Linked DNA regions of Homo sapiens: region 1 is linked to region 2. Evidence: fine-mapped expression QTL. Tissue or cell type: whole blood. Region 2 holds a variant in brackets; the other region holds the start of a gene. All regions are shown on one strand. Distances are from middle to middle.

Region 1 (2,884 bases), 62 kb after region 2:
ACGGGGACAGGAGAACCTCCAGGTTCCGTAGGGTAAGAGACATATGGCGGGGGCGGACCTTAGCATCGGAGGTGTGAGGATATAGGGATCGGGAATGGGGGATCTGGCTTAGGGGGATTGGGACTGGTAACTCAGGGGTCCCTGGAGATAAGAGCCAGCGGGATCCCGGGGGTTGGAAGCTCGGGACCCTAAGGCACAGTTTCGAGGGCTTTGGGCGCCTGCCAGTCGAGGGGGCAGTCCGGCCAGGACCTCCGCTGCCGGGGCTTCGGCCCAGGAGGGACTGCTCGGAGCTGGAGGAGGGGACCGCTGACCTGGGAAGGAGGAAAAGAGGAAGGGAAGGAGCCTAGAAGCCAAGCAGGCACTAAGCGAGTGCGCACCGTGTGTGCGGAGGTGTGTGTGTTGTGTGTGTGCGCGTGTGTGTTGTGTGTGTGTGCGCGTAGGTGCGCGCGCGTGTGTCTCATCTCGTCCGTCTGTAGGCGCTGGGCTCAGCGAGACGCCGGCGAGAAAGAAGAGGAGGCGAGAGGTGAACTGAGTTTGATCCTGCGGCGGCTACAAGTGGGTCCCGGGCGGGCTGCGGGCGGCGGGCGGCGGGCGGCCGGGGCGGGGCGGGAGGCCGGGCTGCGCTCTCCAGCTCCGGCCGCGGGCCCGGCCTCTCACCACGCCTCCGGCTTTGTGAGCGCGCGGGTTGGGGCGGGGGGGTGCTGGCGGGGCGCCCACGGCGCAGCCTCCCGCCTCTATATAAACACACGCATCGCCTCGCTTTGGACTCAAATTCACATTGAGAGAAGCTTTTAAAACCACCAGCCCTGAAATCCTGCCTCCTGCTTTTCCCCCTCTTTCATTCCTTTTGCCTTCCTTTCTTTTTTCCCCATTTCTTCCCCCAGCAGCAACTCCAGAGCCGAGAGACCGCGTCCCGGGACGGACTGCCTTTTCTTAATTGATACAATAGCCCAGCTCGGGTTTTCCACCTCCTCCCCCAACCCCACCCCGCCTCACCCCTCCCGCCCGCTGCCGCCGCCGCCGCCGCCGCCGCCGCCGCCGCCGCCCCATCGCCCGCCCGGGGCTCTGTCGCCGGCTGCGTCCCGTCCCGGCCGCGGCCCGCCGGCTCCGCACCCGCGCTCGGGCCGCAGCGCCCGCCTCGCCGCCTCGCCCGCCGCTCCTGCCTCGGGGGTGCTGCGGCGGCTCTGGGGCTCGAGCGCGCCGCCCCGGGCAGCCCAGGGACTTTTAGGCTCCGGCCTCTCCACTCGCCTCAGCCAGGGAGCTTTCTCCCTCGCCCCCAAAGTTTCTGGGTTCGTTGGAATTTTTGGATTCAGGAATTTTTTCTTTTTTTCTTTTTTTCACCTAGGAATTTTGGGGCCATACTGCAATACTTTTGACAAATCGACCGCACTTTCTCTCTGCTAGCTCTCTGCCCCCTTCTTTTTTTCCGAGCAGGGGAAGGGGCTTACGAGAGAGAGGCTCCCTCTGGACAAAGTTTTCCAAAGTTTTCCGAGTGTGATGGTAGCGGGGAGAGCAAACCCACCAGCTTGACTCACGGCTTCATCTCACCACCCCTTGAGCAGCCCCTAAGCCCGCTATAAAGGAACAAACAAACAAACAAACAAACAAAGTTGCACCCCAGTCGCCTCGTGTTTCCTCTCTTCTTTTAGGCAATTTTTTTCCTCCCTCTCTCCGCTCCCCTCGCAGCCTCCACTCCCTTTCCCTTGGCCCCTTCCTCCTTCTCTGTTTCGGCTGGAGGTGCCAGGACCCCCGGCCGCAGCCTCCCCTCCCCCGCCGCTCCGGTCCCCTCCCGTCGGGCCCTCCCCTCCCCCGCCGCGGCCGGCACAGCCAATCCCCCGAGCGGCCGCCAACATGCTCTTTGAGGGCTTGGATCTGGTGTCGGCGCTGGCCACCCTCGCCGCGTGCCTGGTGTCCGTGACGCTGCTGCTGGCCGTGTCGCAGCAGCTGTGGCAGCTGCGCTGGGCCGCCACTCGCGACAAGAGCTGCAAGCTGCCCATCCCCAAGGGATCCATGGGCTTCCCGCTCATCGGAGAGACCGGCCACTGGCTGCTGCAGGTAAGGGCGCGCTCGCTCCGCTGCACTCCGGGGTCCGCTAGCTGCGAGCGCGGGGCAGACGGAGCGGCGGGCCGGCCAGGGGGCGCCGGGAGCCTGAAGGCACTGGTCCCCGCCCCGCCCCTTCCCTCCTCTCTGCCGCAGCAGCCCGGGCTTCCCCAGCCCGCCGGCAGCGCGGTTCCGGGACCACTGGCGCCCGCGGCGCAGGTTCAGGGGGCTGGTAAGAGGGGTTCCCGGACCTGAGGGGGCTCCCAAGATGGACTTGCCTGGGTCGCGGCTGGCCTGGCAGGGGGCGTGGAGCGCCCCGGGGGCGCCTAGCGAGGCGCGGTCCCGGGGGAGGGTCCGGTCCTGAGCCGCTTTCGCCTCCCCTCGGTGCTGCAAGCCCCCAGTCGCCCTCGGCTTTCTGGGGTTGGCTGTGTCGCTGGGAGCCGAAAATTGAGTCGGGAGAGGAGGGGGCTGGTGGCAGCTTGAATTGCCGATTTAAAACTGTGTTCCTGCGGCGCCGTCGGCAGCGCCAGGTACAGTGTCCCTGGTCCGCGGTCCGCGCGAGTGTGTCTGTTTTGTGGTGGAAGAGGAAGAAGGTAACCCAAGGAAAAATGAGAATCCAGGGCTCTAGGCTTTCGGGGAAAAGGGTCTATTTACTTATTGGGTGGGGACAGTTTGGCAGGAGAGGGAAACTTGGGAGAGGTGAGTGTGGGATCCATAGAGAGAGAGTGCGTGTGTGCTTGTTAGATGCCGCACAACCCCACTCTGCTGGTGATAACGGGGGTGAGGCGCGTCAGGGACCAGACCCAGGTAGGTAATGGGGAGATTAACCTGGAGTTCACCTCAT
Region 2 (2,899 bases):
TCTACGTATCACCTTCTAGCAACCTCATTATGCATGGTGATTCATGTGAAATCACCATAAAACCCAGCTTATGGTGGGTGTGGCATAAAGTTCCATCTTAAGCAAGGACAAAGTTTTTGTTTCTGTTATGGCTTCACGTTGTCTTGGGTACATGGAGGCATTCATTAAATGGTGAGTGAGTAAAGGTGCATGTGCAGAAAAAACAGGGCCCAGCCTTAGTCCTGAGCTTATACCAGACTTCTCCCAAGGCTTTCCTTTGCCTGACAGTACAGCTCTAGCAGAAGAGGAGGGCCCATTTTCTCACCTCAGTCTCTCATTGGAGAATATGGAACATTTATTAATAGAAAGTAAGTTTCAGAACTGGAAAAGGGCCCTTGGAAATCAATTAGTCCAAAAACTTCATTTTTTTGGAGAAATTGTGTCCAGAAATATGACTTTCTAGGATCACCTGTCAGTACGTCACTAACTGAGTCTCTGCAAGGGCACATGGAAACTGGTCCACTGAGGAATGAGTCTTACAGGTTGCAGGCGCCCAGGCAGTTAGTGAAGATAGGATGCATTTCAGGTTGAGAGGGAAGAGGGTAAAATTGCTAATACTTTCCTGAATCAACCCCAGCTGGAGAAAGCTGTGGCTGCCTGGAGGGAACCGGAGGTGGTGCTTCACCTTCTACAGATAACATTTAACTCAGGCTAATCAGCACCCTAAAATAAGTGCCAAGCAAAAACATTTTGAAGAAATGCCTTTGTAAACAAGGGTTGTTCTCTTGTAACTCAGCCATAATATCCAAGAGTCCACAGCCGACTGACCTTTTGGGATGTATGTGTGCTTTGCTGAGGAAACAAGGGCAAGGATTCCAAAGTTTCCACCTCACCACTGAAGACCTGTAATCCCACCTTGCTGCTGCCCACAAGAAAAACAAAGTGCAAACCAAGCTTCCACGGGCACTGTGCCTGGAGAAGTAGACACACTGACTTGTAAGATGAGGCACAGCCCCCTTTGGGATAGCTGCCAGAAAACTGTACAACCTTCTGGAGATTGTAATGACTCAGGGGCCCTTTGGGGAAGGTAGGTATCCTGGAAAACACCTAGTCCCTTAGCTTTGAAATAGATGGCAGGTCAGGAGAGGGGGCAGTTCATTACATTTATTGAGTATCTGTTGTGTCTGGTACTGTGCTGGGAAATGGGTATCCAGCTATCCAGTATGAACAAAATATTATTGTCTGCTGCTCTTCCTTCTAAACTTTCTGTGGTGATCCCTACCGTACTTCACATTGACGTGTTCAT[T/C]TTGTTTAGGATTAATGGAAAGTTAGCAATATGCCGTCCATAAAAATGCATTTCGATTGACTTAAATATGTGGATCTGGCTCCTTAATTAATTGTAAATTCCTTGAGGGAAGAGGTTGTATTTTCTCCTTTCTTAAGAGTCCTCACAGCGTTTTGCATGACAGTAAATCAGAGAAAATACTCAATGAAGGTTGATTGAGTAGATGCCTAAAAAACAGTGTTTGGAGACAAATCAGGGGAGACTAGGGAGGAGGCTGAGAGCAAGCAAAGGTTTAGGACCCAAAAGATCAGCACACCCTACACATGGCAGCTACAGATACCCACCAAAAGAAAGTCTTAGTATTTATAATTCTTTTTTAAAAATTATGCCTGCATAATCCATGTGTAGCAGCATCATTAGGTGCATCATATTTGAATGTGAAAAGCAACAACATAAAAATCTTATCACTGAGGACCAAATTTAAATACCATTAATTTTAAGAAAGAGTCTGCCTTGATGATTGTCCTTGGTAAGTAAGAGTGTATTCAAATATGCACAGTTGTATTTTCAGCACCCTAGCCTTGATTTTGACACACGCAGGATGAGTTACAACACTAATTCTCTGATGTAGCTGTAAGCCTTTACTTAAGCAAAAAATGCTATAGTGATCAGAAATGTAACAAAAGCCCAGTTTTTAAAGGAGCCATTTGTTTTTTTCTGCTATAAGCATAGGTCTGCACTGGGTGTTTGGCTGAAACACATGTAGTTTCTAATAGAATGAGATGCTCACACTTCCTATTAGCAGAGGAGGGTGCTAAGATAAAGAATTTTAGGGAAGTCTGAGCTTTGCTTCTTTAGAAACCTGAAAAAAAAATTTTTGGAGACAAGGTCTGGATCTGTTGCCCAGGCTGGAGTACAGTGGCACAATCTTGGCTCACTGCAATCTCTGCTTCCCGGGCTCGAGCCATCCTCCCACCTCAGCCTCAGAAACCTGAAAATTTAAGAAAGAAGATTTTATTGGAGCAGGATAGAAACAGCTAAGGGACTTTTACTTGTTCAGTCCTGGTAAATGCTCACAGTTAATGAAGGGAGAGACAACTAAGTAAGATTAAATATTTCTTTTTTCTTTTCTTTTCTTTTCTTTTCTTTTTTTTTTTTTTTTTTTTTTTTGAGACTGAGTTTTGCTGTTGTTGCCCAGGCTGGAGTGCAATGGCGCGATCTCAGCTCACCACAACCTCTGCCTCCCGGGTTCAAGCGATTCTCCTGTCTCAGCCTCCAGAATAGCTGGGATTACAGGCATGCGCCAACACACCAGGCTAGTTTTGTATTTTTAGTAGAGATGGGGTTTCTCCATGTTGGTCAGGCTGGTCTTGAACTCTTGACCTCAGGTGATCCACCCTCCTCAGCTTCCCAAAGTGCTGGGATTACAGGCATGAGCCACCGTGCCCAGCAAGATTAAATATTTCAAACTACTTATGGTAACAAGATTGTATCTGTAACTCCTTGCCTATGTATTCATTTGATGTAAGAGTTTCTAGAAAGTAGAGAGAAAAAGCTGTATTGTAAGGTTAAAATCCACAGAAAAGGAGTTTCTTAATGCTTAGTGACATTGGAAGATTTCTAGTAAGAGAATAC

Evidence for each region.
Region 1: it holds the start of CYP26B1, and the variant in region 2 is fine-mapped to the expression of CYP26B1 in whole blood (INTERVAL, PIP above 0.99).

Annotation. Positions count from the first base shown.
Region 1 is chr2:72,146,802-72,149,685 of GRCh38, reverse strand. It overlaps CYP26B1 (cytochrome P450 family 26 subfamily B member 1), which reads left to right and starts at 1,824. Exons shown (of 6, transcript NM_019885.4): 1 at 1,824-2,055. The coding sequence starts at 1,852. RefSeq lists enhancers at 1,935-2,436, 2,626-2,884.
Region 2 is chr2:72,208,759-72,211,657 of GRCh38, reverse strand. The region is part of intron 20 of EXOC6B (exocyst complex component 6B); the gene reads left to right. Among named protein-coding and RNA genes, the nearest start is that of CYP26B1, 62 kb to the right of the region's middle. The variant T/C (reference allele first, on the strand shown) is at 1,286.